5 separate regions of the Homo sapiens genome follow, and all the other regions are linked to region 5. The links come from fine-mapping of genetic effects on gene expression. A gene starts in region 5. Each other region holds a variant in brackets. All regions are shown on one strand. Distances are from middle to middle.

Region 1 (5,106 bases), 160 kb before region 5:
AATGAGTTTCTAGTATTGGTAAAGTCAGTGTCTTAAATGGAAAAGCAAGTGGGCAGTTGTATGTTTTCACACAAGTGGTGTTAAGTAATAAGAAATGGAGGTGGGGGTACATTTTTGGAAAGTGAAGTCTTTATAAAAAGTAAAGACAGTATTTTCTGAAATGTTTGAAGGAGGGGATTTAGCAAGCAGGGATGAAGAAAAGGCATTTAGGATCTTGTCTATGGTCTGGAAAAAGCTTATAGGTACAAAAAATATTAGATATTGGGAGAGTTAAAAAGTTATTTGGGGGATAGGCAAGGAGAGGAAAGAACAGGCTCAGATGTGAAGACCATATACGACAGATTGGGTAATAAGACTTTCATCTGCTCAGTCTTGACTTTAAATTCCATCCATTCATCCATCCACACATGTAGTGACTGTCAATACATGTTGACATTACACGTAAAGGTATAAGCTTATGTGCCAGACACTTGGATAAAAAGATGACTGAGACATGATCTCTGTCTCTAGGAGCTGTCTAGGAGTTAAATAAGTGTGTGGGCTGTGTGTGTGTGTGATCTATCTATGACTTTACAACTCAATGCCATAGATCCTTTAAGTTTTAAGAGAGTGCCATGTGAGGGTGCGGGATTAACAAATAGCCTGGGAAAACTGTAAAAAATGTGAAACGATATAATAGTTTAACTGGCTCTCAAAAGATGCAAAAGAGCTTTGGCAAGCAGAGGAAGATGTACAAACAGGCAAAAGGAAAGAGGCCAGAAAGTCCACCGGGCAGCTGGAAACAGTAAGAGGCATGCTAATGCCTAGGTGCTGAGAAGATAATTTGTTTAGGAATAAATTGTAAAATACCTTGTATTTCAAATGATTTTCCAACAGGCTCTGGTGAGCTGAGGCAGTCAAGAGATTGAAAGGTTAGAGATAAGCTAGATAAGGTGCCTAATTTAAGCCACTGGTGGGGACTATGAAGAATGGGTCTGAATTCAGAGAGCAGATGGATTCAACAGAATATGCTGAAAACAGACGATGGCAGTGGGTTTTCCCATATAGGAAAGAATGAACCTATCAAGCCTGCAGAATCAATTTCAATGCCATTAGGGGTTGAGAAAAGAACGACTGTGGTTTAATTAGGATAGGATTTTCTTCAGAGAGAAGGGGAAAGAAGTGAAAGTTAACACAAGGCCAGAACAGGTCAGGTGAGGCATTTTTTTTAAACCATGAAAGAGATACAGAATATGGTAGGGGAAAAGGTCATGATCAAGTTAGAATGAAGAGTCAGGAGAGACATTAATTATAGCAACCCAGTGTGGTTCCAATTAAGCAGAGAGGCTACAGCAAATGAGGAGGACAAAGAGACAACATCAGGTATGAAGGCAGATCACAGACTGGGCACAGGGGCTGAGTTTTATGTGGAGGTAAAGACAGAAGACACTTACATATAAGGACCTGATACAGAGAAAGAGATTAAGGAAGTAAATAGGAATGGTGTTAGTAGAGATAATGTTCCTGAAACCTTAGTGGGAATTTTTTTACTTAAATGGTTTGATTGATACAATGAGAGGTTACAGGGATCTAAGGAAGTCTAGGCAGTAATCTGTCGAAGCTGCTGGAGAGGATGACGAAATGGGGCGAGGAGGCAAGATGCGGGGGCCTTTCCATGGCAAGAAAATACTGAATGCACTGCCATAATGTAAATATGAGAGTTACACAGACAAAGCAAGGCAAATACCAAAGAGAATCAGGAAAGAATGCCCTGAAGATCTGCATTAAAACTGTTCTCTGAAATTAAGCTTGTCTTGTGAGGATTCACTGAAAATGAGAGTCAACCACTAAGGAGATTTGTATGAAAAGAACCCAGCGAATTAGAGAAAAGATAGATGCTGGCAGCTAAGACAGGAGAGGGACATGTGAGTTGGGCCAGGGTACAGAAAATGCAGTGTGGCAAAGGGCAGAGTGGGAAAGGTGGGAGGGAGCTGCCAGGTCTCAACCACCTGGGGGAGACCATGACAAAGTAAGAGACACTTATGAGGTATTTCCAGAAAGCTTTGTTAGAATAATAATTAAAGAAAAGGGTATGTCACTAGGGCAAAAGATTAGAAAGAAGGCAAAAGAGATGGATCTGTACAGGCTAACTGCAGCAGTCTATGCAGGTCTGGACTGAACTGAGAAGCAATGGGTGCAGCATAGTGTGTAGGACATCGAGGAAAGCTGGGCAGTGAGTGCCAAAATAAGCAATACACACCTACCTGGAAAATCGTGTTGAGTCTGTGGGAATGCTGTACAAATGGTGGGAGGGAGTTTTTCTCTAGGACAAATTCAGAAAGGGAAGGAGGAATGGTACTGGAAAGCAACATTAGAGTTGTCCTCAGATGAAAAGGAGTTGGTCACTAAGGAATGACACACATCAACAGGAAGGTAAGACAGCATTGCTGGGCCAAAAGTCATAAGAGAGTATGAAATAAGAGACTGGAAGCAAAGGAAAGAAAATATTACATAAGGAAGGGCCTACTGGCAGAGCAGGTGTGGAATAAAGATTTAGAATGGGGTATCCTGTCTAGGTCTAAATGGTCGGCTGCATGGGAAATACACAGAAAGGGTTAAGGAGCAAGGAATTCAGTAGGAGGCAGCAGCAGACTAGCTCTTAAAGCTTTTGAGGGAATGGCTAATTAAAGGACTTGCTTGATAGGAAAGTTATAAACTGATGAATGCTGATAAAAAGCTATAGATGGGCCGGGTGCAGTGGCTCACGCCTGTAATCCCAGCACTTTGGGAGGCTGAGGCAGGTGGATCACCTGAGGTTGGGAGTTCAAGACTAGCCTGGCCAACATGGTGAAACACTGTGTCTTC[T/TA]AAAAAAAAAAAAAAAAAAAAAAAAATACAAAATTAGCCGGGCGTGGTGGCCCATGCTTGTAATCCCAGCTACTTGGGAGGCTGAGGTAGGAGAATCACTTGAACCCAGGAGGCAGAGGTTGTGGTAAGCCGAGTTGGTGAGCCTTGTTAACTCTCCTTGTTAATACACAACTCTCCTTGTTAATATACAACTCTGACAATTTAACATGAGCCAAGCCCCATTGCACTCCAGCCTGGGCAACAAGAGCAAAACTCCATCTAAAAAAAAAAAACAAAAAACAACAAAAAAGCTATAGATGGCAACTTTAGAAATATTAGGCTTGATTTATTAAGAGAGTGTGAACATGTAGTTTGTCCAGAGAATGGATTATTGCTACTAGATGGGGAATGGGTGATTATGAAGAGTGAAGTAAAAAAGTCTATATCTATTTCTGTAGAGATGGTAAGGCCGGGTGCAGTGGCTCACACTTGTAATTCCAGCATTTTGGGAGGCTGAGGCTGGCAGATCACTTGAGGTCAGGAGTTTGAGACCAGCCTGGCCAAGATGGTGAAACCCCGTCTCTACTAAAAATTTTTGTAAAAATACAAAAATTAGCTGGGCGTAGTGGCACATGCCTGTAATCCTGGAGGTTTCAGTGAGCCAAAATCACGCCACTGCACTCTAACCTGGGTGACAGAGTGAGTTTCCGTCTCAAAAAAAGAAAAAAGAGAGAGATGGCAAGTGAAAGGATGACTGACAGTTAAGATATCGTAGACTATTGCACAGTGTTCCACTGAAGTTGCCTAGAAGTTACTCTGCTATGTGAGGATTGGCTAAAAGTGACAGACATTTCCTAGGGAAACATGAATGAAAATATCACAGGGGAAGAGAAAGAGAAGATGGAGGCTGGAAGCTAAAAGATGAAAAGATGTAGGATTTAGGCTGGAGTGTGGAATATAAAGTGTGGGTAGGGGCTGGGCACGGTGGCTCATGCCTGTAATCCCAGCACTTCAGGGGACTGAGACAGGTGGATCATTTGAGGTCAGGAGTTTGATACCAGCCTCGCCAACATGGTGAAACCCCATCTCTACTAAAAATGCAAAAAGTAGCTGGGCGTGGTGGCAGGTGCCTGTGATCCCAGCTACTTGGGAGGCTGAGGCAGTAGAATCACTTGAGCCCGGGAGGTGGAGGATGCAGTGAGCCGAGATCAGGCCACACTGCACTCCAGCCTGGGTGACAAGAGTGAAATAATTCTGTCTAAAAAAAAAAAAAAAAAAATATATATATATATATATATATATATATATATATGTGTGTGTGTGTGTGTGTATATATATATATATATGTGTGTGTGTGTGTATATATATATATACACATATACATATATATGTATGGGTAGGGAAGGGCATTAAAGAGGGCCAGAATGAGGAACACCAGAAGATGGCAGAGCTGCATATGCAGTAGAGAGATGTGAGTTAAGCTGGGTTACAACCAAAGAAGGAAAGAGAATACAAAGAGTAAGTAGATAAATAAGAACTGGTGTCATGAGGAAGTGCCATCTGGGAATCTTTGCTTGAATGATGTTTGAAGCAACAAGTGTGACCAATAGAGTGAAAGGTCAAGGAGTTTAAATGGAATGGATTCTTGCCATAGGCAGTGGCAGGAACCCTATGAAGGTCTGGAATGAACTGAAAGTGCAAGTGTTTTCAGAGTAGTGTGGAGGTGACGAGGAAGAAAAGACTAAATTCATGAGAATGATACACAAGATGATAGCTGAAAAAACAAGTGACTAACAGTTGTTCTACTAGGGTCAACTGGGGAAAATAGTGGAAGAGCCTGCAGAAGAGACGGAGTCATTTGAAGATTGGCAGGTATTGACTGGAGGGATACGGCCCCATAAGTGTAAGATTAAATAAGGAGAGACTGGAAACTGTGTAAAGGGAGAACTATACAAAGAGTAGGTAAGCGTAGGTGGAGTGGCATGGACAGGTAAAATGAGGAAAGTGTTTCCCAGAATGGGAAATCTTGTAAACCCTTAAAAAATGTGGGTTTATTCAGTCAAATGTTGGCTCTTAATTGCAGACTTTGAAAAGCAGTAGATACAATGGAAGAAGAACAAGTGCTTGAAAAGTAATGCGAAGCTTTTGTGAGAAGTTTAATGAGAAGGATTAGAAGGAGATGGATTAAGATGAGCCCTAATAGGGCAGCACTTAAAGACACCAGGATAGATCTTTGAGTAGTTTGTAGAATGGATGACTAATATTGGAAGAGGAGTGGCTGGA
Region 2 (5,106 bases), 120 kb before region 5:
GGAAGGCCAGAGGACACAACAGAGAGAGGAAACCACTGTTCCTTAGAGGCAGAACTGAGAATACAGGACGGTTAGGGGTGAACTGAGACAGCAGATGGACTCAGTACAGCAGGTTGAGGACATGGAAGCTGGCAGTGGTGTCATCAGTGGGGGGCAGGGCAGGAAGGGGTCAGAGTTCAGGACAGATTCCTGAGTCTGTGGATTGACTTGGAGGTGGCAGGGCATGCAGGACTGGATGTTGAAGATGAAAAGGAGTTTCTGGAAGATGACAGTGGGAGGCAACACTGTGTGTAGACTGTGCAAATTTACACTGGCATACCACATGGAATGAGAGAGTCTGGCAGCCATTCTAAGGCAGTTATTGGGATGTAAATTTGATGACGGAAGTTTATGGTAAAAGAAGGGACAGGAGGCAGGTAGGAGGGGAGATAACCTTATGAATTTGTGCAGGGCTTAGCATCAGTAAAAGGGCTGACATGGAATAGGGGAAGGTGGAATGCAGAGTTCCCAAAGTGGGGGCACTGGCAAATCTCAGGGGCAAGTCAGTGGTATGTTCGGTATCATGGCTGAGTGTAGGAGCATTTTAGGGAATAGAAGTTAAATCCTAGACGACAAGCGAGTGGGGTAACAACACTTTACCTGTCATGGTAACTACTTCATTGAATAGGAAAACAGAAAAAGAAGAAACCTTATAGAGGGTGATGGTAAAGCAACCCCAACTGATATGGAAGGCAGTGTTGGCAATCACTGAAGGTCAGGATTTTGAAAGCAAACAATTAACAATGTAAAATTTGCAAGTGTGGGGGTTGGACATAGGTTACTATGTGTTTAATGTGGTCTCCAACAAAATTAGCAGAGCCAAAATGAGAAGGAAGTATTACTCTGTTTAACAAGATTGAAATTAAGGGGACAGTATACAGTTTAAACCACTTTGGGATTTAGGAATGTCAGAGTTGGTAGGGTGGGTATTGTTGCCCCTTGATCCACAGTATGGAATAATGGCAAAGAGGAAAACTATATAGAAAGAACTTGTCATTAGGGAATTTGGTGGCTTCCTTAAAGCTCCTTGAGGGAAACACTTGATGAATGCTTAGAGTCAGGAGAATAAACGGTCCCATATAGAGATAGGTTTATGAAGCGGAGTCTGAAGGATGAGCTTCATCAGCAATCCTCAGAATGTCAGTTCTACTAGCTAAGGATGCAGGTAAGTATGTTGGACACCAAGAGAACAGGAAGGAAGTGTTTTGAACACTGGAGGTGGGTCATGAGGAAGCTTATACATATTCACATTGTGAATCAATTTCAAGGACAGATGAACAAAGACTGGGCGTTACCAATAGAGCAGGGTTTTGTTTTGTTTTTCCCCTAAGGCAAAAGGCAGAAATGAGTGGGTACACCATGATTAAGTTGCATTCTGTAGAGATAGGATCATTTAAGTCAAGTCAGCAACAAAAATTAGAGACATTGAAGATGATGGGGTAGAAAAGGGGTATCAAATAGGTTAGAAAGATGGCTTGAAAGGAAATGAGGGAAATTTCAGTGAGTTTGAGGAATGGCAGACTGGGTATGTGACAAATGAGTGGGTAAATAAGGAAATCTCAGACTGAGAATCCTGGCAGATCTTTCAATGGGTTAGACTGCAGGAATATTGATTTTAAAGCCAGACTGAAGCAAATTCTAGTGATAAAGGAAGGGGAAAGGGTGGCTGAATCAAATGTTCTACCAATACTGCTTTTTTTAGTATTTGAGTTAAAATTCAGATTAAATGCTTGGCTTAGAAGAATGCAAAGCTTCACTGAGCCTAATAATATGGATCCCAGTGGGTGAGTGGAGGTGAGTTAAAGTAAAAAACTCTGAGGCAAATCTTACTTAACTGAAGTTGTGTTTTTAGTACAGAATGCCAAGTTAATATGGTTAATACTGAACAAAAAATAATGGAAGGGCAACTACAGTAGCTTAAGATGGCACTTTAAGGAAGTGTAGGCAGAAAGTCAAGAAATTAAAATAATTATGAATCATTATATGGCAGGCAATATTTCCAATGAAAATCAGAGAAAATAAACTCACATACATGTACTGTTACAGCTGATCTTAGTATGAATATTTTCTATTAAAGACTGTTTTAAAATAAGTTATTAATATTTGTTGAAATGGTTCCAGATAACAAGAAATATGATGCAATAAAACCTGATAAATAAAAGCAATATAAAGATTAGAATGGTTTTGAATAGGTAGTGGAATAAAAAGTTAAGTTGGTAGTTGCATTAAAAAGGTCAAACATGGGGAATAATTGGTAGAATGTTGTGTATATAATATATATTGTTACGGGTGCAATAAATATTCAGGGGAAACAGAGCTGCTGAAAGAGAATGAATGCTTAGAAGGAATGTTGCCTTAAAGGCTTTTCTAAAACTTTTTAGGTAAAGGACAAATTCTGGGAGGACGAAAGATAATAAGTAGGACTAGTTACATAGAGACTTAGGATGTCCATAGTCTTTCAAGAAATTGCCCAACCTTTGCGAGAAGGTGTTATGGTAATATATTGATGTTGGGTTAAAGCAAATTTTTTCAGATAGGGTAGATTTTTATACATTTATAAAGTAAAGGGGAGTAGGAAAGATTAAAGATAGATCAAAGAAAGGAATAATTGATGGAACAACTTTCTGGAAGAGATTAGAGGGTATGTGTCTTTTGAACTCTGGAAGACTTGATTTTAGAGAGGATAAAGGAAGAAAGTGGATAATTCTAGAATTAAACACCAAAAGGTTCTATGTGTCTGGCACCATGTGAAGCAACTTACCTAT[T/TATTTCATTTC]ATTTCATTTCATTTCATTTCATTTCATTTCATTTCATCCTATAACAGTCCTAAGAGATCAAATAATTTGTCCACGATTACACAGTCAGTATGTAGCAGGGCCAGCATTCAAATCCTCATCTGTCTATCAAACCCATATTCCCTTCTATTATGCTATACTGTTTTCAAGTTGAAGGAAATCAAACCAAGAATTTCTGTTTTTTCACTGCGATTATAAGGAAAAATATTATTTTTCTGAAATGAGACATATTGATGTTTAAGACCTTGAGGTGACAGGTAAAATTTGGAATATCTGTGATGGGAAAATGCAAAAAGGAAGGAATGGGTGAAAGATACCTATTACCATCTATGCCCTGGTATTTCACTTCTTCCATTGCACAGCATAGACTTTAGATTGGCCATGGATTAAAAATTTGAGAATTCTGACAAAAAACTAAATAGAAAGGAGTTTGTTTTTTAAGTAGGTATATGATGGGTCAAATATAAACTTACTACTAACAAAACTTTAAACAATTCCCTAAATGCCAAACTTTTATAAACAAAAATCAAACAAACCATCAAGCAAAAGAGTCCATAGCCAGCAGACCAAATGTTGAAATCTCTGGGCTAATTTGTAAGATCTATGTTTTAAAACTCCTTAGTGAAGAGGGGCAAGAAAACCTCTCCTCTTTTTCCTCTCTTGGTGGAAATGTTTTGTTGTTGTTGTTGGTTTTTTCCTATACTATATGTAATTTCTATATTGTTGTTTTGTGTATTTTGGTATTATAAAATTATACTTCTTAGATTCCGTTAAGAATACTTTCTGGGGTGTGAGCCACCTGAGTTATTAGTTAGCAAAATGAACCTGGGGAAGTGGGAAGAGCTAGTATTCTCAATTGGCAAGGGATTGATTCTTCAATGGGTTCAGCATTTCACTTCCCTCTGAAATTAAGTGGCAAAGTAATAGCATCCCTTAAAAAACAGGACATTGGTGAGAGGTAGAATAGCAGGAGGAATTTTGAAACATGGAGGGATGGCTACTGGAAAAGAACTGATGAAGTGCAGAGTCTCTCCAGACAATGGTAGAAACCACAGGACTACATTAAGATTGGGCCCAAATACTAGTTTAGAAAAAGGTAAATAAAACTAGCTTTACTTAAGAGTACAGCCAGCTTAATTACTGGCTAGTGGACATATTTCAGACAAATCTAACTGGAGAGAAAAACAGACCAGGAGAGAAAGCGAAGTTACAAGGAAATGGAACTAGAGAAACCTCACAAAGGGATAAAGGAGGTAATTAAAGGTTAAAGCCAGATAGCCTCGAGCTCAAAGGAGAAATATTGGAGGCCAGATAGGAAAGTGCCTTCCTACTCAGGGGGTTATGGATCCAGGGTGGCTAAAGAATAGAAGTAGAGTTCCACCCAGGGCCAGAGGGAACAATCTGGGATTCAGACACAGCAGTGGTGCCAACGTGAATCTACCTCGTGCTAGAGTCTGAGTAGCCTAGTCTATCACCCAACACAGATAAGACTGGACAGGGGCTCCCAGGAACCAACATCTAAGAAGGGAGTTTGGAGAGGGGCTAAAAGAAAGCAGGTTAAGCCCCAAATGTAACTGAATGATGACCAGGGATAACTATTTACTAGTGCTTTTATGATTTATTGTAACTCTGTAACTTTCCCAGTATTTGTTAATTTTTTAACTTCTGTTTCTCCTGTACTTACGAGCAGTAAAAGTTGTTCAAAACATAAATGTGATGTGTGTGCTTATTTCTGTGAAAACTGGGTAACAGTTACGAATATTGTGCACTGAACATGAGAAGAGAAGAAATCAAGGAGGAAAATGATGATGGGGGGAATCAAGTAGAATAAATACTTGACATTCACCTTCCCAAGTCTCCAAATAAGTAAATACTACTATTGGCACTAGTTGGCTGTCTTTTAGGGGCTATTTCTCCACCCTGCAAAGACTGCATATGGGTCAAGGAGGGAATTAAAAGCCCTTCTTAATGTGGACACACATGGTTGGCTAAGCTACTCACTAGGCTGAGACATGCTCTCAGACACCAGCCTTATGCTACAGGACCTTCAAAAATGATGTATTTTAAAATGCCAACAATCTACTACATAACCAAGTTCTATCTAACTAGATAGAAACTTTGAGGAGAAGAGGGTCAAGATTCTTCACAGGAGACCAGGTATATGAACTCTCACAAGTGGTCACATTATTCCAACAGAAAGCTTGAGTTCCTTTTTGTGCTACTGCTATACACACTCAGTTTCTCTTTTAAGATTAAGTGTTCAGCAAATTTTACTCAGAGATT
Region 3 (5,106 bases), 65 kb before region 5:
CCTTTGCAGGGACACGGATGAAACTGGAAACCATCATTCTCAACAAACTAACACAAGAACAGAAAACCAAATACCGCACATGTTCTCACTCATAAGTGGGAGTTGAACAATGAGAACCCATGGACACAAGGAGAGGAACATCACACACCGGGGCCTGTCGCGGGTGGGAAGCCAGGGGAGGGATAGCGTTAGGAGAAATACCTAATGTAGATGACAGGTTGATGGGTGCAGCAAACCACCATGGCACATGTATACCTATGCAACAAAACTGCACGTTCTACACATTCTGCACATGTACCCCAGAACTTAAAGTATAATAAAAAAAGGAAGGAAGGAAGGAGGGAAGGAAGGAAGGAAGCAAAGAAGGAAGGAAGGAAGCAAAGAAGGAAGGAAGGAAGGAAGGAGGGAAGGCTCTCAAAGTGAGAAACTAAAGCATCTGGCCAACAGCCAGGGAGAAACTGAGGCTTGTCAACAACTATATAAGTAAAATTACGTGGATCCTCCAGGCCCAGATGACTGCAGGCTAGGCCAACGACTTGATTATAAACTCATACGAGGGAGGGACCTTGAATCAAACTGGACAGATTCTCTCAGATCCCTGACCATAGCAACTAGGGAATAGTAAGTATTACTTATAAGCTGTGAATTTTTGGTCCAATATACCACATAGCAAGAGATAACACATACAGTTACACTTACTTCTAACCGATTTCTTTCCTGTTGTCTATTTGAAGGCTTTACCTCAATCAATTTTTTCCTTATCAATTTTCAATCAACTTTTCCTCACTCCATTTTCTTCGACATTTTGAAAGCTTTACATTCAATTTACATTCTTTATATAATTAAATATTATATTAGCTATATCTATAATATTACAATAAAGTTTTATATTATTACCATATTTTCCTCCCATACAAGATGACAACACACATACACAGCATACTTTTACTTCCATCTAATACCACCTTCCTTTTTTTACTTTTTTTGAGACAAAGTCTCACTCTGTTGCCCAGGTTGGAGTATAGTGGCACAGTCTCAGGTCACTGCAACCTCTGCCTCCTGGGTTCAAGCAATTCTCCTGCTCAGCCTCCTGAATAGCTGGGATTACAGGCACACACCATCACACCCAGCTAATTTTTGTATTTTTAGTAGAGACGGGGGTTTCACCATATTGGCCAGGCTGGTCTCGAACTCCTGACCTCAAGTGATCCTCCTGCCTCGGCCTCCCAAAGTGCTGGGACTACAGGCATGAGCCACCACACCCGGCCAACCACTTTCCTTTTTTTTTAAAGCCTACAGCATCCGGTATTACCAGATTGTCTCGCATCCAAGTACTAACCAGGCCCAACCTTGCTTAGCTTCCAAGATCAGATGAGACCTGGCTTGTTTAAGGTGGTATGGCCATAAACTAATACCACCTTCTACACCATTATTTCTCATGTTGTCATCCTCTGGAATTTTAGAGCTTCTAATTAAAAAAAAATTATTTGTAAACATCAATTCAGAATTATCAACTTTTCTACCCCAAATAAGAACCATCCAGCTAAGACATTCCCAAACCCCTGACCTGCAAAAATTATATGGAAAAATAAATATTTACTATCCCTTTAATCTGGTGTTACACATGACAGTATGAAAATCATACGTGAATTACTACAAAATTAATGTGCTCCTACCTCAGAGATAATCACTATACTAACTTTCAATACCACAGGTTAGTTGTGCCTATGTTAAGTCTAAAATAAACATAAATGGAACTATATAAAATGTATTCATTTGTGTATGACTTCTTGGTGAGATGTATTTATGTGATTGTATTTAACAGTAATTGTTCATTTCCATTATTGTATACTATCTGACTATATGAATATACCACAATTTATTTTTTGATTCTGGCACTGATAGACATTTGGACTGCTTCCATTTTGTGGCAATTTGGGCATGGTGGCTCATGCCTGTAATCCCAGCACTTTGGGAGGCCGAGGCAGGTGGATCACCTGAGGTCAGAAGTTCAAGACCAGCCTGGCGAACATGGTCACACTCCGTCTCTACTAAAAATACAAAAAATTAGCAGGGTGTGGTGGTGCGTGCCTGCAATCTCAGCTACTGGGGAGGCTGAGGCAGGAGAATCAATTGAACCCGGGAGGCAGAGGTTGCAGTGAGCCAAGATGGCACCATTACACTCTGGCCTGGGCAACAGGAGCAAAACTCAGTCT[C/CA]AAAAAAAAAAAAAAAAAAAAAAAAATTTGCGGCAATTATGAATAACAGTACTATAGGCATCTTGTACAGTTGATCCTCGAACAACATGGGGTTAACAGTGCCAACCCCCATGTAGCTGCAAATTCACATGTAACTTTTGACTCCCCCAAAATATCACTAATAACCTACTATTAATCATCTTGTTGATAACAAAAATAGTTCATTAACACGTTTTATGTTATATGTAATATATATTGTATTCTTACAATAAAGTAAGCTAGAGAAAAGAAAATATTAAGAAAATCATAAGGAAGAGAAGATATAACTATTCATTAAGTGAAAGTGGATCATCATAAAGGTCTTCATCCTCATCATCTTACATTGAGTAGGCTGGGGTGGAAGAGGAGGTCTTGATGTCTCAAGGGTGGCAGAGGTGGAAGAAAATCCATGTGTAAGTGGACCCATGCAGTTCAAACCCATGTTGTTCAAGGATCAACTGTATGTCTTTTAACACACAAATGTAGGCATTTCTGTTTGGTTATTTATAAGAAGCCAATTGGGATTGTAATTAGGGGTTTGTGGAATCCATAGGTCAATTTAAGAAGATGTATCTTTACAATATTGAATATTCCATAAATGTTATATGCCTCATTTACTTAGGTCATACTTTAATATTGTGTAATTTTCTGTGTAGAGATATACACAAATTTTAGTAGATACATTCCCAAGGATTTGATTTCAATATAATTATAAATTGTACCATTTTTACAAAATTTTATCTTTTTGATGGGTTGCTGGAATAAGAAATAAAATGACTTCGGATATTGACCAGCAACACTGGTAAATTTACATATGAGCTCTAATAGATAATGTACAGTTTATTTTGCATTTCCTATATATATAGCCATATTATCTCCAAATATAGTGTTACGTCCTCCTTTCAAATTTTTAGGTATTTTATTTTCTTCACTTATTGCACAAAGTAAGCCTTCTAGCAAAATACTATTTAAAAAATAAAAATAGCAGGCATTTTTGTCTGTCTCATTCACAATCTCTAGGGGAAAGCTTTTAATAGTCCACCAATAAGTATAAAGTTTAGTGGAGTTTTTTTGTACTGTTGTCAGAATAATCATGTTCCCTTCCAGTCCTGGTGGCAGAGATTTCAATCATGAATTGCCATTAAATTTTATCAACCGCTTTTTTCTGCACCCATTAAGGCATTAAGACTCTTCTGTATTTTTAAAATGAGGTATATTATGCTATGTTTTACTGTTAGATCAACCTTATACTACTAGAATAAACCCATACTGGGAAATATTTGGTCATTATTTCTTCATATATCTTTTTTGCTCCATTCTATCACCTTTGCTTCCAGATTCCAATTACATATGTGTTAGGCCACTTGATCTTATCCCACAGTTCTTCGAGGCTCTTTATTTTCTTTAATCTGTTTTCTCTCTGTTCTTCAAACTAGCTACTTTCTCCTGCTCTATCTTCAAATTCACTAACTCTCTTTGACTCTCTCATCAGCCATCTCTAATCTGCTGTTAAGTCCATTCAGCAAATTATCTGATTCAGTTATTGCACTTGCTGGGGCAGAATGGCTCCCCAAAGATGTCTATGTCTTCATTCCTAGAACTGATGAATATGTTACGTTACAACATGGCAAAGGAACTGTGCTGATATAATTAAGATTGTCACCTAAATTACCCAGGTAGGTGCAATCTAATCACATGAGCACTTTAAAGCAGATGTGCTGAAAGAGGAGGCAGAAGAAATGTGGCAGAAAGGCAAATCAGAGAGATTCAAAGTGCAGCTCAACACACTATTGCTGGCTCTGACACGTATGAATCAACATGCAAGGGACTCAAAGAGAGGCCTTTAGTTGCTCATTGAAAGCATGAGAAGGAATACAGGCAACCTCTAGAGGCACAGACTAACCTCCAGCTGAAAGCCAGCAAGGAAACAGAGACCTACAACCTACAGTCTCAAGGAAATGAATTTGGCCAACGACTTAAATGAGATTGGAAGTGGATTCTTCCTCAAAGCCTCCAGTAAGCAACAGCACTCCACCAACATCTTCACTTTAGCCCCATGAGGCCTGTGTCAGACTTCTAATCTACAGATCTGAGATAATAAATGGATCTTGTTGTAAGCCATTACATTTAATGGTAATTTGTTATGGCAACAATAAAAAAAACTAACAGATTTTGGTACCTGTAAGTGAAGTGTTACTGCGACAAATACCTCAAATTGTAGAACTGACTGGAATTAGGCACTGGGTGGAAGCTTGGAAGAATTTTGAGGAGCATGATGGAGGAAGCCTAGTTTTGAAGAGACTTATAAGAAATCTGATCTTAAATGATCCACCCACCTCAGCTTCCCAAAGTGCTGGGATGCCTATAGTTCCAGCTACTCAAGAGGCTGAGGCATATGAATGGCTTGAACCCAGGAAGCGGAGGTTGTAGTGAGCTGAGACTGTGCCACTGTACTCCAGCCTGGGCAGCAGAGCAAGACTTTAAAATAAATAAAAAAAAGAAAGAGAGAGAGAGAGAGAGAAAGAAAGAGAAAGAGAAAGAAAAAGAAAGAGAGAGAGAAAGAAAAGAAAGAAAGAGAAAAGAAAGAGAAAGAAGGAAGGAAGAAGGAAGGAAGGAAGGAGAAAGAAAGATCAATCGATCTGGTTCTTAAGGACACTGCTGGTCAGGGCTTATGAACTGCCTACAGAAATTTGGACTTAAAAGATGCTGTAGTGAGGGCTCAGAAGGAAGTAAAAAACACATTAATGTAAACTTGAGTAAGGTAGATCCTTGTTATTATGTATTGGCAGAGAGCTTAGTGAATTTGTGCCCTGTAGTTATTTGTGAAGCAGAACTTGTAAACGATGAAGTTGGATATTTACTTGAGGAAAAT
Region 4 (5,106 bases), 73 kb before region 5:
CCAATCCACATAAAGACACCTGATTTATAACAAAGCTAATATTGCACAGTAGTGGGTATAGACACATATTTCAACTAATGGTGCTGAGATTATTGGGTTTTCATATGGAGAAGAAAGAAATTAAATTGCTACCTTATACTATATCCAAAAAAGAAAAAAAAAATGAAACAATTCCAGGTAGATTACAAACCTAAAATATGAAAGTTGAAGCTATAATGCTTATGGAAAATAGTACAGAGGATATATTTGTGAATTTGGGGTAAGAAAATGTTTCTTATGCAAGACACCAAACACATTATTTCTAAAGTAAAAGACTGATAAATGTGACTACCTTACACTTACGGAGCTCTGTTCATCAAAAGACACCAAGAAAGGGAAGAGACAAGCTAGAGTATGGGAAAAGCTACTTGCAACACATACAATCAACATCGGACTCACATTTAGAAGACATAAAGAACTCCTAGAAAATCAATGGGAACAAAGCAGAAAACCAAGTTAAAAACTGGGTAAAACTCAAACAAATATTTCAATAGAAAGGATATCCAAATGGATAGTAAACACAGAAAAAAGTTGTCAAACTCATTAGTAATTAGGAAATTAGAAATTAAAATCACAATTCTTTGACAAGCACACCAAGACAATTCAATGGAGAACAAATCGTTTTTCATGAAACGGTGCTGAGACAACTGGATAGCCACATGCAAAGAATTAAGTTGAATCTCTATCCCACAGCATACACAAAAATGATCTCAAAATGGATCAAAGACCCAAATGTAAAATGTAAAACTATAATAAACTCTTTGAAGAAAACAGGTGTAAATCTTTGTGACCTTGAATTAGGCAATGGTTTCTTAGGGGTAATACCAAAAGCACAAGCAAACAAAACACAGAAAAATTAGACTTTATCAAAATGTAAAACTTCTGTGTTTGAAAGAACACTATATCAAGAAAGTGAAGAGATGACCCAAAGAATTGGAGGAAACATTTATAAATTATGTATCTGATAAGGGTTTAGTATCCAACATATACAAAGAACTAATACAATTCAACAATAAAAGACAACCTAATTTTTTAAATGGGCAAAGATTTTAAATAGGCATCTCTCCAAAGAAGATATGGAGATTGGCAATAAACACATGAAAAGATGTTCAACATCACTGATCACTAGGGTAATGCAAATCAAAACCACAACTAGATTCACACAACCTCTTTACACCTACTGGGGTGGGTATAATAAAAAAGACAGACAATGACAAGTGTTGGTGAGGATGTGGAGAAATTGGGCTCTCAAACACTACTGATAAAATGGAAAATGGTGCAGCCCCCTTGGAAAACAGTTTGGCAGTTCCTCAAAAAGCTAGACACAGAGTTATATTATGACCTAGCAGTTCTGATCCTAGGTATGTACCCCAAAGAACTGAAATGTATTGTCACATAAAAAATTACACATGACCATTTATAGCAGCATTATTCATTAATAGCCAAAAAATGAATACGAGCCAAATGTCCATCAACAGATGAATGGATAAATAAAATACGGTATATTTATACAATGTAATATTATTCAGCCATAAAGAGAAGTACTGATAACTTCTACAATATAAACGAATCTTGAAAACATTATACTAAATGAAAGAAGCCAGAAACAAAAGGCCACATATTGTGTGATTCCATTTATATGAGATGTCCAGAACAGGCAAATCCAGAGACAAAAAAATGGATTTGTATTTTCCAGGGCGAGAGGGAAAAGGAGAATGCAGAGTGACTGTTAATGGGTTGGGTGCTTTCTTTGTGAGGTGATGCAAATGGTCTGGAATTAGTGGTGGTGGTTACATAGTTTTGTGAATATACTAAAAATTAACTATATACTTTTAAAAGGTGAGTTTTATGGTTTATGAGTTACATCTCAAAAGTTATAAGCTGGGAAATTATCAAGGAAATATAAAATAGAATTTAAGTGAACAAAAGCTATAAGCAAAAACAAGGGTGAAATCTTAGAAGAAAATACTAAATGAACAAAACAAGATGCAACTCTCTTGAGTACCCCCACACTCCCTTGAGTGTGCACTTTTTGCTTTGAAATAAAATCTCTGTACTTTCACTATTTTCTGACTCATCCTTGAATTCCTTCTCATGATGGTGTCAAGAGTCTGGACACCGGCTGGCGCTGAGGTCCCATCGGCATTTGGGGACCCCCCCCCTCCAGCCTACCAGTATCATCTTTATGGCCATCCAGCCCAGAGCATCATCAGCCACAT[C/T]AGAACCACCAGCAGTTGGTAAGTCCCATTGGGGCCTTAATTGGAGTCTTCTCGTTCTCTGGAGTTACTGCTACTTTCTTCCTTGTTCCTACAGCCTGACTCCCCTCAGCCGTAGTGCCTCTGCTTCCTCCAGCTGGAAAACGCAGTTCGCCCTGACAGTGACAAATGGAGGTGGGAAGGCTTTGACCTACACCTGAGCTCTGAGGTGCCATGGGCCTCCTGGGCAAGAGGCTAATGAGGGTGAGTAGGGTAAAATCCCATGTCCCAGTGGCTGGACAGCTGCCAAGGAGCATTATGACTTATTCCTGGGAAGTCTTCTGTTCTCCCAAGGGACCAGCTGCGCTAAGACACTGACCTTGGTTGGGAACTGTTTTCCCTTTCCCATCTCTCTTTAAACCCTGCTTTTGTGGTTTTCTCTTCTCATGCTTCTTCCTCATACTTCACACAAAAGTTTAGTGAACTCTGGACACAGCAAAATAGGTCCGCTGGAATGCCAAATCTAGGCCTATTGTTTTAAGGGGGCCCTTCAAGGTGGCTATTATTTGGCCATGCTGAATTATCTCTACTACGAAGTTTTACTTGGTAATAAATATTCAGATGGATTTTGGCAGGCTTGCTGCTTTCAAACTAGGTCCACACTCATCCTACTCAACCTTGAAAGCAAAGCCCCAGGGGCCATGGACGCCTGGGCAACACTAGGGCTCCAGGGACACCTGGACACCAAGGCAGCCAGCCAAGGGAACATGGACAACTGTCTCCCCGGCCTGACCATGGAGCTGGTGTCAAGAGCCTGGACACTGGCTGGGGCTGAGGTCCCATTGGCATCTGGGGACTCCACTGCAGTCCACCAGTATCATCTTTATGGCCACCTAGCCCAGAGCATCCACAGCCACATTAGAACCACCAGCTCATTCACCTGGCATTTTGTAAATGCTGGAACTAGTCCCTCCGAAGAGGAAACTATACTGTTCTTTTCTCTTTCAGGTCGTGCCGAGGACAAGTCAAGGCTATGGGTAACTCTCTTTTAGAAAATGGGGTGCAATGGCCAGAGTCTAGGACCGTAAAATGCAATACCATCTTGGAATTAAATCTTTTTTGTAAACATCAGAAGAAGTGGACTGAAGTAGCATATGTATTAATACAAGCCTTCACGGCTCTTTATCAGAACCTTGACCCTCGCGGGAACTGCTGCCTTTGTTAGGCTCACAGCCCTTTAGGGGAACCAAATGGGACACCAGATACCCTGCACGATCCCCCTTTTGGGAAATGTACCCCCAGACTCCTGCTAGTCCATCTCCTTACCAACCTTCACACCCTTCTCTACAGAAGGAGCAGAGCCCTGCTAGGGTTGCCCACAGTGCATTTCCTACATTCTTGACCATTCTAAGTTATGCCCACTTAGGGAGGTGGCCAGTGGGGGTGCTGGGACTATCTGGGTGTATCTTTTTCGATGTCTGATCTAGCCTACTGCAGACAGAGGTTGGGCCAATTTTCAGAGGACCTAACTAAAGTTATGGAGGGGTTCTGGGCTCTCTCACTCTCATCTGAGTTAACCTGGGGACATATTCATATTATCTTGTCCATGTGTTGTACCCCTGAGGAAAAGCAGTGTATTTGGGCACAGGCCCAGGCTTATGCTGACACCTTGTTGGCTTGGGACCCCGAACAATATACTGTAAAGGCCATGTCTGTGCCTAACAGTGGCCCTAATTGGAATTATCAACAGGGCCAGGCTTATCTAAGAAAAAAAAAAATCACATGATGACTTGTTTAGTGAAAGGAATGAAAAAAAGGTACCACTAAGCCTGTGAGCTATAATAAAATAAGGGAAATAACTCAAAGAAAAGATGAAAACCCTGCTGTGTTCCAGGGGAGCCTTGTGAAGGCCCTAAAAAATATATGCTAACATTGAACCCAATATTGATGCTGGCCAAATTTTTCTAAGGACATACTTTATTAGTCTATCAGCATCTGACATCAGGAGGAACATGAGGAGGAAAGTGCAGAAATTGGCTTTGGGATCCCAAATGCCTATTACTCACATGTTTCATGTAGCTTTTAGGTTATTCAATAATAGGGATAGGGCTGAAGAGGCTGAAAGGACTCAGCATGGCAAACAATGGGACAGACAGCAGGCCCAAATGACACCCAGGGGGATTCTTCGCCCAAGGACCAAACAGCCCTAACAGCAAACCTGTAGGAAATGGTTGCCGCTTCTAGTGTAGGAAGCTGGGACATTAGAGCAAGGGCTGGTTCATGGTATAAGATCTCAAGGATGCTTTTTTTTTTGTATCCCTCTGCACACTGACTCTCAATATTTGTTTGCTTTTGAGTGGACTAATCCTGAAACTATTATTACCCAGCAGTACACCTGCACAGTACTGCCTCAGGGCTTTAGGGATAGCCCTTACTTGTTCAGCAATGCCTCGGCATGAGAATTAAGGGAGCTAGAGGTAGAAAGGGAAGCCGTACTCCAAGATGTGGATGACATCCTTGTATATAGTTCCACTAAAGAGAACTCAGATAAGAATACCATTCAAGTCCTAAACTTCCTGGGAGAAAGAAGATTATCAGGTCTCTCCATCTAAGGCCCAGATTTCTAAAATGGAAATAAAATATCTGGGATACATCCTAAGCCCAGGAAACCGGATCTTGTCTGTCAAACAATAGGAGGCTATCTTAAAGACGAGACCTTCACAAATGAAGAAGCAACTCATAACTTTCCTAGGTATGGCACGATTTGGATCCCAGGATTTCAGCTCATTACTAAGCCACTGCATGAGGCCCTAACTGGGCCAAAGCATCAACTGCTCGGAGGGGCTTGCGCTGCAATAAGCCCCATCTTCTG
Region 5 (5,106 bases):
GGTTAAACATCTCTAATCTCAAAATCCAAAATCTGAAATGCTCCAAAATCAGAAATTTTTTGAGTGCCAATATAACACTCAGTGGAGACACTCATCAGAGCATTCTGGATTTCAGATACTCAGATTAGCAATAGTCAGTGAGTATGTATTCTGCAAATATTCCAAAATCCAAAAAAATCTGAAATCCAAAACACTTCTGGTTCCGAGCATTGCAAAGAAGGTATACTCAACCTGTATATGTCATAGTCCTCGTACTCAAGTTTTACATATTATTTTGTTAACCAAACGTTGTATATGTTAAAATTAAGTGAATTTAAAATAAATAAATATACTTTCCAGAAAGTATTTCACTGAATCTTCAGTATTTCTATTCCAGGACACACTTATCTGAGGAAAATAAAAATAATATACCTGGTTCAGTAAGTAAAGAATCTTTGTAAGAATATGCAAACATCTTCTTGGATTGATTGGAGTTTCATTGAATATACGAGCCTATGAAAAAACATAAAAAACATTGCTACTTTTCTACCTTTTCTATCACAGATTATAGCAAATCAACTTTAATACAGACTATTTTTAATCACGGTATCCAAAGAACATTGTCTATAGTTCTCAATTTACTAAGGTATCTGATAAATTATTACACGTGGCCTTGATTTTCCATCCTATACTTTCTCATTCCCTTAGGTTGACTACTTCAACTTTATGGGCTATACCAGTTAAATAAGGATCACAATACTTATCTATATCATACTAATACAATGAGATTAATACAGATAACTGATTTCAATAACCTTGCACTAAACACCTGTTCTTACATTTAAAATTCCCAACCTGTGACAGTCTTCATGTCTTTGCATTTCTATAAGCTCCAAATTCTCCTGTGACAAGTAACCCCTCTTTCTTTTCCCTCAAATCTATATTCCCTAAACTCTGTTACGTTTCTTGTTTTGCATGTCGTGATCACAGCAGCCCAGGGATTCTCTGCCCACCACTCTAAAACAGAATAGAAAAGAAAGGGCACAAGATACTTCCCAGTCATACCTCCTGTAAAACAGCACTCTTCTCCAGATGCTGGAAAGGATTGGAGCCACTACCTATTTATAAAACAAAACAAAAAAATGTCCTGAACAGCTGTTCTACACAAACTTATATACTTTCCAGAGAAGGGTACTGAATGCTTGGGAAGTGAACACTTGGATGGCACAGTGATAATCATGGCTAATACGCATACGAACTGAATGAAATCATTTTGATCCCGGCTCTGTCACTGCCATACTCGAAGAGCTGAGACTTCTCTTTCGCAGCAACCCTCTCCAAAATGAGTGTCTTCTTTCCCTGCCCTCTTTTTCCATGAATGTTAAAAATGTGTCATTTCCACAACAACGAAGATTAATGAGATTGTAGTAGGGTGCTTTTGATTTCCTTAGGTAAGCAGTATTTTATGTGTTTCTAACACTTAAGGAGAGGCAGAAACGAAGTTTCCCAGAGAATCATGCAGGCGTAAAGGTGCAAGAGGCCATGGAGGTTGACTAACCCAACCCCCTCTCACACTGTGGGAGATGCTACCAAACACTGAGAATTTTTTTCTTTTTGAGGATGCTTGGCATCTTCCCCATTTGCTCTGGACCAAAGACGGGCATCAAGACGCAGGTCACTTCTGGACACCTGAGCATTCAACGAGCTGTGTCCCACGGGACAGTCTTGCCCCCGGGGACCTGGACAGAGCCGGTGACCCCAGGAAAACGATAAGGTACCAGGCACCTGAACGTTCCTCCACACACACCCTGTGCCGTCGACCCCAGCCCCGGGAACAGGGTGCTCCCACTAGGGGTCCGACCCTACCAGCACCCCTGGACGCGGAGACGCGCGCACGCCCTCGGCCCCCGCCGGAGGCCCGCGCGCAGGGGAGGAGGCGGCTCGGAGGGGCTGCGCCGCAAGAGGGGCGGGAACGGGGCGCGCGCGGGCGCCGGGGCGGGAGCGCGCGGCCCGAAGGGAGGCTCCGGCGCCCGGGGGAGGGGCTACGGGCAGGCCCCGGGCAGCCGCGAGGGGAGGGGAGGGGCCGGCTCCAGCTCCGGCCCCCTGGCACGGCGGCGCCCACGCCCCCAGCCCCGCCGGCCTGAAAGCAGGTGGCGGCGGGCGGGGGAAGGGGCGTCCCGCGGCTGAGGGTGGGCCTCGGAAGCCCCGCGCGTACCAGACTCCTCGTCCTTCTTGTCGAATTTTTTAATCATCTTGGACGACTTCCCAGCGCCCAGACCCACCGCAACCGTCCCAGGCGCCGCAGCCGGCGAGCGGAAGAGGCTGCAGGAAGGCCGGCCCCGCGCTCTCACGCCGGTTGGGCCGCCGCGCCTTCACTCGGGGCCAAGGCCCGCCCTCCCCGGCCGCCCTCGGCCCCCGGGACGCAGCCACGCCCCCTTCTCCTCTTGCGGCCCGCCGGAGACTTCGGCTCGACCCTCCCGGCTTGCGACCCGGGAGCCCACGCCCGCAGCAGCAGGAATGTGGTTTTATTTGGGTGGCGACTTCTGCGGACCCCTCAGTCTCAAGAGAGCGAGGCGGGAGGACTGAGGGGTCTGTGTTCACCCGATGACCGTGGCCTTTTTGATAATCCACTGCGGGGCCCTCCCGTTGCGGAAGGCGCTCTCCCCGGGCGCGGTTCTGGTGGGCATGTCTTCCAAGAGCGATGCGAGTGTCAGTGGTTCCCGAATCACTTTGGAAATTGGCCTTTCACTCGCTGACTTCTTGGAAGCTACGACAAAGCACAGGCACCCTGGTGAATGTGGCTTTTCAGAAGTACTCGAAGGATACTTAATGTGAGATGTAAAGGAGACGCACTTGGAGGGACCAGAGGCTGGTCTTTAGAGGGTAGATTTTGGACCGTGTAATACCATTCCCAACCTATTTTATAATTTTTGGATTCCTTCATTTCATCAAAACCCAGTGGAAAATTCATTGCCAGTTTAGAGTCTTCCTTGTTCAAGCCTATTTCTTTCAATGATTCCATCTGAAACCATATTGACACTTAAGAAACTCACTAAATTAACGTGCATTCATTCCTAACTCATGTTCCTCTTTTTCTCAGAGTGTATGCTGGCTTTCTGTTCTCTTGTCTAAGAGTGTAGCTAAGAAACTTTGTCTGCCTTTGGCTTCACTGGCATAACTTGTTTAGAAATGTAAATTGGGTCTATACTCAACAGGATCGTGCCCCTGCAAAATTAGAGAAATTCTAACCTAGATTACATTCTACATCCTAGAGAAATTCTTTCCCTGAAATACAGATTTAAGATGAACTGTTGATATCCTACATATGGTATCATTTAAGATTTAACTCCGACTTGACTAAATGTACTATTAACTACTATGTTTGCTTTATATGGCTTGTAAAGGTCAAGTCATACTTTGTAGGTGGAGTTTTCTTTGAAGGAAATAGAAGTCTGCACTCATTTATTCTGGGGGTGAAAATAAACAGGCTTTGGGGAAGGAAACATCCTCTTCCTCTTCCTTGGCCCAAGGGTATTGGGAACCTAGGCAGAGACAGTGTAGATAATAGGCCCAGAGGTTCTCAAGGTGGGTAATGCCCCGGAGACCTGCTGAGAAGTAGAAGGACCTGAGTTCAGATTTGGGGCTGACCCTAAGACTAGCCCCTTGTAAAGCAAGATCAATCATTCTCTGCTGTTCTTCAGCTTTTCTGTATATCTATGAAGTTTTGTTTAATACCACAGGTTGTTTTTAGCTGTGCAGTATTTACGGAGTTAAGAGCATCAGTAGGTGGAAATGGGATGGGATGTGGTGGCAGATAGGTATAGCAGGAGCAGAGAAGCCTGAAGAAGCCAGTTAAGGGATGGTATAATATGACCCCAGGCCTTCGGTATCAGGACTATTTGGACTGAGGATGGCTGGCAGACGGGTTGAGCAATCACTGCAATGGCTTTGTGGGACAGGCAAGGATACCTTAGGGAGTCTCAGGAATTGTTTGAGGAGAGAAACCCAGTAGGAGAAATGGACCTTATCTTAAAACCATGAGCTGGTGAAGTCTGAGGACCCACCAATTATATATATCTAATACACAAATGTGTACTCAGTGCCCTGAAATTCTTCATTGGGTCCAAACTGCCTACTGGATAAAACCCAAACCTTTATTTAAATAATATTTAAGGCATTGTGGTATTTTCGATTTCTTGTTATTGTTGTTTGTTTGTTTTTCAGACAGGGTCTCACTCTGTTACCCAGGCTGGAGTGCAATGGCATAATCACAGCTAACTGCAACCTTGAACTCCTAGGTTCAAGCAATCCTCCTTCCTCAAGCCCCCCAAGTAGCTCAGACTACAGGTGCATGCCGCCACACCCTGTTAAATTTTTTTAAATTATTTTTTGTAGAGACAGGATCTCACTATGTTGCCCAGGCTAGTGTCAAGCCCCTGGCCTCCAGCAATCCTCCTGCCCCAGCCTCCCAAACTGCTAGGATTACGGACACGCCCAGCCTGTCAAGGCCTTTTATGATCTGTTTCATCTCTTTCACATATTGAAAGTGATATTGTTGGTGCTTGGTAAGTGTCAGACACTTAGTAGGAACCCTTGAAATACTGTTAAATAAATGATAATATGTGAGGAGGATTCTCATTGTACCCTCTGCCATACAACCTTATTCCAAGCCCCTTCTACCCCATTCCCTACCCCAATCCCAGAGACTTTTGTACCTCTAAGACACACAGACTTATCCTTTGGCCCTTTTAGAGCAGTTTTTTCTTCAAAGTATAATATGCATACCACTGGGTGGTTCTAGGTGGTACATAGATAAACATTTTAAAATTTCATTATTATAAATTTGATATAAGTGTTTCAGAAAAGCATATAATTTGTACATCAAAACCATGATATCAATGATATAGTATTAATTAGGACAAGATTTTTTAAAAATCCTTTTAAAAAATGCTAAGTAAATTAACAGCAAATAATACATCAATATGGCAAAAACTATTAAAGTGCTGGGTGATATAGCTTAGTAAACACTGCTAGAGCTTTCTTGAAATTTGAGGATTTAAACAGGGTCCAGAGCTTTGCACCTTTTGAGCCTCTATTTGTTGTTAACTTCCATGCTATAGGGAAAAA

Alleles and levels. Positions count from the first base shown, and alleles are read on the strand shown. Sizes are in standard deviations (SD) of each study's normalised expression. Not every link is listed here.
For the expression in subcutaneous fat of the gene that starts at base 2,311 in region 5, allele TATTTCATTTC in region 2 goes with a lower level than allele T (large effect, 1.7 SD a copy in TwinsUK).
In carriers of allele C in region 3, the expression in macrophages of the gene that starts at base 2,311 in region 5 tends to be higher than with CA alone (large effect, 1.4 SD a copy in Alasoo 2018).

The links. PIP is the estimated chance that this variant, and not a neighbour inherited with it, causes the effect.
Region 1: its variant is fine-mapped to the expression of COPG2 in monocytes (CEDAR, PIP 0.95). The same link has a PIP of 0.9 or more in CD4 T cells.
Region 2: its variant is fine-mapped to the expression of COPG2 in subcutaneous fat (TwinsUK, PIP 0.95).
Region 3: its variant is fine-mapped to the expression of COPG2 in macrophages (Alasoo 2018, PIP 0.95).
Region 4: its variant is fine-mapped to the expression of COPG2 in whole blood (INTERVAL, PIP 0.98).

Annotation. Positions count from the first base shown.
Region 1 is chr7:130,509,208-130,514,313 of GRCh38, forward strand. All of the region lies in intron 20 of COPG2 (coat protein complex I subunit gamma 2), which reads right to left. Among named protein-coding and RNA genes, the nearest start is that of MIR335, 16 kb to the left of the region's middle. The variant T/TA (reference allele first, on the strand shown) is at 2,845.
Region 2 is chr7:130,542,366-130,547,471 of GRCh38, forward strand. The region is part of intron 20 of COPG2 (coat protein complex I subunit gamma 2); the gene reads right to left. COPG2IT1 (COPG2 imprinted transcript 1) reads left to right here and starts at 1,088. Exons shown (of 1, transcript NR_024086.2): 1 at 1,088-4,535. The variant T/TATTTCATTTC (reference allele first, on the strand shown) is at 2,805.
Region 3 is chr7:130,601,505-130,606,610 of GRCh38, forward strand. All of the region lies in intron 9 of COPG2 (coat protein complex I subunit gamma 2), which reads right to left. It also overlaps the pseudogene RNA5SP246. Among named protein-coding and RNA genes, the nearest start is that of COPG2IT1, 61 kb to the left of the region's middle. RefSeq lists a silencer at 494-694. The variant C/CA (reference allele first, on the strand shown) is at 2,217.
Region 4 is chr7:130,593,612-130,598,717 of GRCh38, forward strand. All of the region lies in intron 9 of COPG2 (coat protein complex I subunit gamma 2), which reads right to left. LOC124901746 (a long non-coding RNA gene) reads left to right here. Exons shown (of 2, transcript XR_007060524.1): 1 at 1-2,498; 2 at 3,243-3,365. Among named protein-coding and RNA genes, the nearest start is that of COPG2IT1, 53 kb to the left of the region's middle. The variant C/T (reference allele first, on the strand shown) is at 2,259.
Region 5 is chr7:130,666,438-130,671,543 of GRCh38, forward strand. It overlaps COPG2 (coat protein complex I subunit gamma 2), which reads right to left and starts at 2,311. Exons shown (of 24, transcript NM_012133.6): 1 at 2,195-2,311; 2 at 1,045-1,097; 3 at 412-492. The coding sequence starts at 2,231. TSGA13 (testis specific 13) reads right to left here. Exons shown (of 8, transcript NM_052933.4): 8 at 2,206-2,746. The coding sequence ends at 2,577. RefSeq lists an enhancer at 1,514-1,623 and silencers at 1,894-2,483, 2,574-2,683.